Linked DNA regions of Homo sapiens: region 1 is reported to be linked to region 2. Evidence: microRNA targets listed by miRTarBase, many of them from high-throughput screens and not tested one by one. Region 2 holds a microRNA gene; the other region holds the end of a gene's coding sequence.
Evidence for each region. The annotated mature microRNA hsa-miR-3657 reads UGUGUCCCAUUAUUGGUGAUU and lies in region 2 at 2,723-2,743, opposite strand. An mRNA with a match to its seed (bases 2 to 7 or 8) in the 3' UTR can be bound and repressed. Matches are read on the target gene's strand: a 7mer-m8 pairs with bases 2 to 8, a 7mer-A1 pairs with bases 2 to 7 and ends in A, and an 8mer does both.

Region 1 (4,403 bases), not on the chromosome of region 2:
GTGGATTGCTTGAGCCCAGGAGTTGGAGACCAGTCTGGGCAACATGGCAAAACTCCATCTCTACAAAATACAAAAATTATCTGGATGTGGTGAAGAGCTCTTGTAGTCCCAGCTGCTGGGGAGGCTGAGGTGGTAGAATCACCTGAGCCTGGGGAGGTTGAGGCTGCAGTGAGCTGTGATCACACCATTGTACCTCAGCCTGGGCAACAGAGAGAGACACTGTGTCAAAAAATAAATTAGTCTATGAAATATATCTGGAAATGTAAAATGTAAGCTGAGAATGACTATTTTGAAGGAGTCAACAGTGTGATGTTCTAGGAGAATTGCATTCTATGGAGAAGGAACAAGTGTAAAGGCTTAATATTGTAAGGTTACATGTGGTAAAATATTTTTAAAAATCCAATGCAACAAGTGCATGGTAGACAAAAGGAATAGTGTTGTCACATGAGGGCAGGGAAATAGTCAGCACACAGATCATTAATGCATTATAAGCCAGAGCAAAAGAAAAGTTGATGGTAAGTGTGGCATCAGTACACTAGAAAGCTTTGACCAAGGGAGAAACATGATGGTTTCTATATGAAGAATGGGATATGGCGTTGTGGAGAGACATGAAGCAGGGGCTTCCCCTGCACTTAGAGGGCTTTGGAGTTTTCAAGTAAGAGATAATGGTTGATTGGACTTTTAGTGTACAGAAGTGGTAGAAATGTAATGAATTATACCAACTCGAGTATTTTGTAGGTAGACAGGATAGGACTTACTACTAGTAGGCAGGGTGAAGAAAAAAGAGTAATTAGGGATGACTCACTGATTTTGGATTAAGCTACAGATTGGATACCAACGTCATTTAATGGGTTTGGCAGAACTTGGGGAGAAAGAGGCATTGCTGGAGGGATGTCAACAGTTCTCTTTGGGATTTGTTAATTTTGAGATACCTGGAAGCTAGTCAACTAGGTGCTTAAGTAAGTATTTGGATATGGGAATATGGAACTGAGTAAATAAGTAAATACTAGATTTAAATATAAAATTCAACAGCATAAGAATGGTATGTAAAGCCATTTTTTTCATTTTTATTTTTTATTGGAATAACTGAGAAAACAACATAGATGTAAATGAAGAGGTACTGGAATAAAAGGACACTGCTATTAAATTTAACTACAAGAAAATTTAGTGATGGCGCACCTCAGTAGGATATTAAAGGTAGAAGCTCAATTTTTCTGTCATTTTACATTACATTTCAATCTAAAACCTGACTTTTGAATCCTATTGGTGAAAATAATTTTAAGGGCCTTTTTATAGAGGAAAAAGAGGATTTGAAATGATTTCCTAAATCTTCAGAGAGATGGTAACATTTCCAGAAAAGTTTAGCAATCTCAACACATAATTTTACTATATGCAGAGGAAGATGATGAGCAGGTTCCTAGAGGGAGTGGGAGGAGAACAAAGGGCCAGGATTTGACTCCCTCTGCCATTACAGCTGACCCAGGCTAACAACGTGTGATCACCTGGCAGATCAGGAGTTACAATAACCACTGACTCTTAGTAGTTGATGCAGGAGGGACAGGACCCAATGTTAAGTGTTAAAGAAAAACAATTATTCCTTACTGTTCCTTGGAAGGTAGCTCTTAGGAACATACAGACTAGGAGACCCTTCCTTTAATGTCCAAGAGAAGCTTTATGTTGCATCCAAAGTTTGTGTCAGGAAGAATAAAAAGAGAAAATCATTTAGCAAGTTCTGCAGCAACACTGAGTTTATTTAAGAAAATGTTAAATCAGAAATAAATGAATTGTCATTTAATTGAGAAGTTCAAGGATATTGCATTTTGCTTAATACTGCTTTTTATTTTTTCCTCAAATCAACAGGACTTATGGGTCACAACAGAGTTTAATACAGAGTTTTACTGTTTTAGAGACAGTAAGTTAATTGTTTCCACATCTAAATAAATATTATGTATATATTCTTACTCTGTTACACTCTGTTAAATTTTGGTTAATTTAGTTTTGTGAAGTATTTAGCCATTTATCAAGTAGCTCTTTCATATGCCTCATTTAAATTTGTTCTTGTTGGTAATAAACAATTTTGAGTTTCATCCTTCTTTCAATCAAAATAAATTGATTAATATTTTCTATTTTAAAACTTTGGATGCTTAATTGGTAATAATATCATCTATCATAAGCTAGTAACCTCTCCCTCATGACAGACTTCCTTAACCTTTCCACAGACACTTTTTAAAGCTTCATTTATTTCGTTGTCTCTCCATGTTCTTTGAATATTTCTTAACATGAGAAAGTCCAAACTTCATAAAATTCTAAAAGAAATTTACTCAGAAAATTACAGAGATAATATAAGAACAGTGTCAATTTGAACCTTTAGTTTGATGTTTATTATTTTAAATTTATTTAATTTGATCAGTAAAAGCATATTTATCGTGTACAATATGATGTTATGAAGCATGTATACATTGTGGAATCCTGAAATCTTGCTAATTGACATAAGCATCACCTCACATGGTTATCATTTATGCGATGAGAGCACAATGTTCATTCTCTTAGCATTGATTTTTCAAGAATACAATATATTGTCATTAACTATAGTCACCATGCTATAAAATAGATCTTTTGAACTTATTCCTCCTATCTAATTATAATTTGGTTCAATTATTATTAAATCTACTATGTACCCTCAAAAATGAAAAAGACAATAATTAATTCAATCTGGCTTAAAATAAAACAAAACTGGCCGGGCGCGGTGGCTCACGCCTGTAATCCCAGCACTTTGGGAGGCCGAGACGGGCGGATCACGAGGTCAGGAGATTGAGACCATCTTGGCTAACACGGTGAAACCCCGTCTCTACTAAAAATACAAAAAAATTCAGCTGGGCTTGGTGGCAGGCGCCTGTAGTCCAGCTACTTGGGAGGCTGAGGAAGGAGAATGGCGTGAACCCAGGAGGCGGAGCTTGCAGTGAGCCGAGATCGCGCCACTGCCCTCCAGCCTGGGCGACAGAGAGAGACTCCATCTCAAAAAATAAATAAATAAATAAATAAATAAGTAAACAAAACAAAACTGACTTACCAAGTGTGCTTCTTTTGGATTGGAAGTGGCACATCCAACAACCATAAACATGACTGTGGTTGTTTAAACTTCAGAAAGAAAGATGTAGGCTCATCGGGTGGTAATACATTTTTTTTCTTTTCTTTTACTTTTTTTTTCTTTTTGCCAAAGGAATGCTATATTTACTTGAAAGTAGGCTTTCTACAAGGTGTTTAACTTCATTTCATGGCTCCTATATTTTTTTGTATCTGTGGATGCAGCTTGAGATTATTTTAAATCTATAGATACAACATCTGTCTCCTTGGATTCTTTAAGCCTTCATTAAACTGTGTGTGTGTGTGTGTGTGTGTGTGTGTGTGTGTGTGTGTGTGTGTGTGTGTGTCCATAGATTTAGTGTCATTATCTTCAACATCCTTATCTGAATATTCTTCTTTAAATCTTTCTAGAGATCATTCATTGAATCCTTCATATCCCCGAATATAAGTATATGTATTCTTCAAGTCTTTCAATGGATCCCCCCTTAATTTTTCTTAACATCTTTCTTATATATTTTTATAAATCTCTGCTGAGTTCTCCTTTGTATCCTTCTTTACCACCTTTTAAAAATTATTTAATTCTTTGAGGCCTCTTGTTTTCTCACAAATTCAGCTGCAGACTACCACTATTGTTTCATCAAATATGCTTTTGAATTATTCTTTCGGTTCAAATTCTTATCCAAGGCCTACTTGCCCTTCTTCTTTGCATCCTTCTTTTCATCCTTCTTTGCATTCTTCTTTGCATCCTTCTTTGCATCCTTCTTAGCATTTTTCTTTGCATCCTTCTTTGAATCAGCAGATTCTTTCTCAGTATCTTTCTTGGCAACTTTCTTGGCATCTTTCGTGGCGTCCTTCTTAGACTCTTTCTTGACATCATCCTTTGAGTCACTGTCTGTACTACTGGGCTTCTTCTTATCTTTCTTACCTTTTTTAATCTCCTTTGCATCTTTCTTGGCATCCTTCGATTCATCACCTTTGTTTGCATCTTTTTTTCCATCCTCATCCTTCTTTTCATCTGCTTTTACAGCTTGTAATTCTATGGCTGAATCCTTGCCCTTCTTTGAATCCTTTTTACCTTTTTTGCTATCTTTCTCTGTACCTCCTTTTTCACCTTCAGATTCTGTTGCCGAGTCTTTGCCTTTGTTTGAATCCTTTTTATCTTTTTTGTTATCTTTCTTTGCACCTCCTTTTTCATCTTCAGATTCTGTTGCTGAGTCTTTGCCCTTCTCTGCATCCTTTTTACCTTTTTTGCTATCTTTCTTTGCATCTAGCTTTTCTTCTTTTCCTTTCTCTATATCCTTGCCTTTCTTTGAATCTTT
Region 2 (4,403 bases):
AAAAATTAGAACCAACAATTCATCAATATAATTATAGCATATTAATATAACAGTACAATATATAACCATTAAAAGTAATGAGATATATCTATATTTACTGACATGAAAAAATGTCCAAGATACCCTGTTATATGAAAACAAAAAGGCAAGTTACAGAACCTTCTGGATAGCAGGTTTGTTTACCACGAAAATTTTCCCAGTGGTTATTACTGACTGGTAAGTATATGAATGATCTTCACTTTATTCACACCTTTATGGGTTACTCTGATATCAGAAAAACCATTCTCATTTTTAGAAACCAGAAAGACAACAAAAAACACTACAAAAGACAATTCCCAAAAAGCTATCTGACATGTTCTAGGGCTGAAAGCTTTCATTAGAAGGAGAGCAACAAAGCCAATCTGACCTATACTTTCAAACTTTGCCCTCCTTTTTTTTTTCCTTTTTGTCTTGCTATGTTGCCCAGCCTGGTCTTGAACTCCTGGGCTCAAGCTATTCTCTCACCTCTGCCTCCTTAAGTGCTGGGATTACAAGCATGAACGACCAGTGCCCAGCCTCGAACTTTGTACTCTTGATCAGTTAAATCATCTTTGTCTCTGTTCTTGTTCTTGTTTAATTCTCCTGAATAGAGTGAAGGAGAGTAGCACCCTCATTCATATCTAAATACCCTTTGTTTGTGAATGAATAGTAACACTCAGCAGAGCATCCAATCTAAAGAACTCCTGGATTTAACTGAATTGTTCAGAAAGTCAATTTACAACTGAAACATCAACTTTCTTTTTTTTTTTTTTTTGAGACAGGGTCTTGCTTTGTCATCCAGCCTTGTACAGTGGTGCGATCACAGCTCACGGCAGCCTCAATTTCCCAGGCTCTGGTGATCCTCCTGCTTCAGCCTCCTGAGTAGCTAAGACTGACTACGGGCATGTGCCACCATGCCCAACTAATTTTTAAAAATTTTTTTGTTAAGACAGGGTCTCATTATGCTGCCCAGACTGGTCTCAAAACTCCCGGGCTCAAGCAATCTCCCCACCTTGGCCTCCCCAAATGCTGGGATTATAGGTGTGAACCGCAGCACCCAGCCAACATTTTCAAATGATAATGATTATTATAATGCTATAGCAAACAAAAGACCCCCATTGATAGTAACAGCATAAACTCAAACCTTAATAAAACAGCACATCATGAGCTGTAATGAGCACTAAATTATTTTCCTGTGAAATGGAAAAAAATGTTACTGTTTTTCACATTCAAAAATTAAATCAATAAAGATGGGGAGAGCCCTAAAACTGAATACAAATGGAAATAAACTTTATATGATATTAATAAAAAGTAATCTCAGTTTTTAATTCCAGTTTACAGAGTATCTTAACTGTCTATACTCACTGGAACGTATTCTAAGGACAAAAAGAATTGCAAAACATTTGAACTTTAATGAGTTTGTTATTGGAACTAGTAGTGGAACTGACGTATGAATTCCCAAAACTATTTAGTATTTACTGTGAAACAACAAATAAATATATTGATGATATTTGGATGCAGGGTTCTCACTCTGAGAAAAGGAAGCTACAAAAAGGGAATGAGGGAAAGAGTGGAAAGAACTCTTGAAACTGAGAGTATCACTAAAATGCTGGCTTGAAAGTATCACTAAAAATTCTTTATGTAGGCCAGGCATGGTGACTCATGCCTGTAATCCCAGCACTTTGAGAGGCCGAGGCAGGTGGATCACCTGAGGTCAGGAGTTAGAGACCAGCCTGGGCAACATGGCAAAACCTCATCTCTACTAAAAATACAAAAACTAACTGGGAGAGCGGCATCTGCCTGTAATCCCACCTACTCAGGAGGCCGAGGGAGGAGAATCGCTTGAAACTGGAAAGTGGAGGTTGTAGTGATTGCGCCATTGCACTCCAGCCTGGGCAACAGAGCAAGACTCCATCTCAAAAAAAAAAAAAAAAGTACGTAAAACTGTGTGTGCGTGTGTGTGTGTGTGTGCACGCGCGTGTGCATAAAAACGCTGTCTAGTTCTCGTCATAGAAATAAACTAGAAGCAGTGAACCCCAATAGCAATGAGCACACTAACACCTAGATCTTGGTTTTGAAATTCATTCCCCAGAAAGGAACCAGTGCTCTTGAAAAAATGTCTGATTTCAGTTCACTGAAAAAATACCAAGTATGTGGAGCATTTATGCTGTTCCAGAAAGCGCCCTAAAACTGATGAGGACATGTTAAAGGACAGAAACCAGCTTAAAGGAGCTAGCCAAATTTGGCATAATTTGAGCATCCAAATGAAAATTATGATAATGGCTTATAATAAAGTGAACTTTTTAAAAAAGAGTCCATGGTGATACTCAGATAGCGATATTTTAAAAAATACATATATATATATATATATATATATATATATATATATATATATATATTCAAATTGGAATATATTCAAATATGTATGAATGGGTTGGGACATCTCTTATTTTACAAAATAATAGCAGCTGATAAATGATAAAAGACAGAATTTTTAAAAATCATCATTTGGGACACGTCAATGTAATAACTAATTCAGGCGCTGAACTAACAATGAATGCTAAAACCAGTGGGTGAAGGGCCATTGGGAAATAGGATATTCATAGACTCAAGCATTATCCTATAGCTTACTTATTACAGAGGGAAAAAGGCACCTTTATAAAGAAATCTGGTAGATATGTCCTTAATCATATATGAAATCTGAAATCACCAATAATGGGACACAACAACATTAATCACATTAGTGTCCCATTATTGGTGATTTCAGATTTCATTATTTAATTATGGGACACAACAACATTAGTGACTCCTGATTTAACTCACTAAAAAGGACAACATGTCTATATTTAACTTCAATATAAGCAATCAGCTTACATTTAGCAATCAGCTAAATCCAGATTGTGGGACATTCTACCAAAAAGCAAGCTAGTGTCTTCAACAATAAAAACAAAGTAAAAGGTTAAGGAAGCGTTCTAGATTAAAGAAGGGTAAACACACATGACAACTAAAGGTCATGTCAGATCCCTGACGGCATTCTAGTATTTTGAAAAAGGTATAAAAGACATAATTGAGATAAGTGGAAAACTTTGAATACTGATTTTTTTTTCCTGAGACGGAGTCTCGCTCTGTCATCCAGACTGGAGTGCAGTGGTGCTATCTTGGCTCACTGCAACCTCTGCCTCTCGGGTTCAAGCAATTCTCATACCTCAGTCTCCCAGGTAGCTGGGATTACAGATGCTCACCACCATGCCCGACTAATTTTTGTATTTTTAGTAGAGATGGGGTTTCACCATGTTGGTCAGGCTGATCTTGAACTCCTGACCTCAAGTGATCTGCCCGTCTCGGCCTCCCAAAGTGCTGGGATTACAGGTGTGAGCCACCACATCCGGCCTGAATATGGACTTTATTAGATAATATCATTGTATCAATGCTAAATTTCTTGAGTTTGAAATTTTCTTGAGTATTATGGTTTTGCAGAGACCTGTCCTTGTTCTATCCTGATGTGTTACATGTCACAAGTCTGTACTTTCCTTTTACATGGTTCAACAAATGAGAGATAAAACAAATGAGATAAATGGTTAAAAATTGATAATCCAGGTAAAGATCTTTATGGGTGTCATATTAATCTTTCAATTTTTCTGTAGGTGTATAATTTAATTTTTTTTAAGTTAGGGGAGAAAAACAACGCATATGCAGGGATGTCCAATCTTCTGGCTTCCCTGGGCCACACTGGAAGAAGAATTGTCTTGGGCCACACATAAAATACACTAATGTTGGCCAGGTGCAGTGGCTCACGCCTGTAATCTCAGCACTTTGGGAGGCCGAGGTGGGCAGATCACTTAAGGTCAGGAGTTTGAGACCAGCCTGGCCAACAGGGAGAAATCCCGTCTGTACTAAAATACAAAAATTAGCCGGGTGTGGTGGCAGGCGCCTGTAATCCCAGCTACTCGGGAAGCTGAGGCAGGAGAATCACTCGAACCCAGGGGGCAGAGGTTGCAGTGAGCCAAGATAGTGCCACTGAACTCCAGCCTGGGCTATAGAGTGAGATTCCATCTCAAACAAAAACAAAACAAAACAAAAAAAACACTAACAATAGCTGATGAGCTTTAAAAAAAAACTCAAAAAATCTCATAACGTTTTAAGAAAGTTTACGGGTTTGCGACGCATTCAAAGTCATCGTGGGCCATGGGTTGGAGAAGCTTGGCATATAGGATCCTAAGGACTCAACATGGAGGAAAACAGTGAAAAGAAAAAGTAGCATGTGGTCAGATTGTTCCTTGTATATCACTTGTGTTACTGTTATTACCATGATGATGCTGGTTTCTTTTTTCTTCTTTTTCTTTTTCTGTAAATTTAGTTTGTATGGTCGTAGGACACTCTCACAG

Region 1: the mRNA of CYLC2 is a reported target of hsa-miR-3657. Seed matches in the 3' UTR shown: 7mer-A1 at 3,427-3,433.

The regions. Positions count from the first base shown.
Region 1 is chr9:103,005,046-103,009,448 of GRCh38, reverse strand. CYLC2 (cylicin 2) reads right to left here. Exons shown (of 8, transcript NM_001340.5): 5 at 3,071-4,403. The coding sequence ends at 3,771. Among named protein-coding and RNA genes, the nearest start is that of CYLC2, 12 kb to the right of the region's middle.
Region 2 is chr12:112,034,905-112,039,307 of GRCh38, forward strand. MIR3657 (microRNA 3657) reads right to left here and starts at 2,811; the gene lies at 2,695-2,811. It overlaps NAA25 (N-alpha-acetyltransferase 25, NatB auxiliary subunit), which reads right to left. Exons shown (of 24, transcript NM_024953.4): 22 at 4,325-4,403.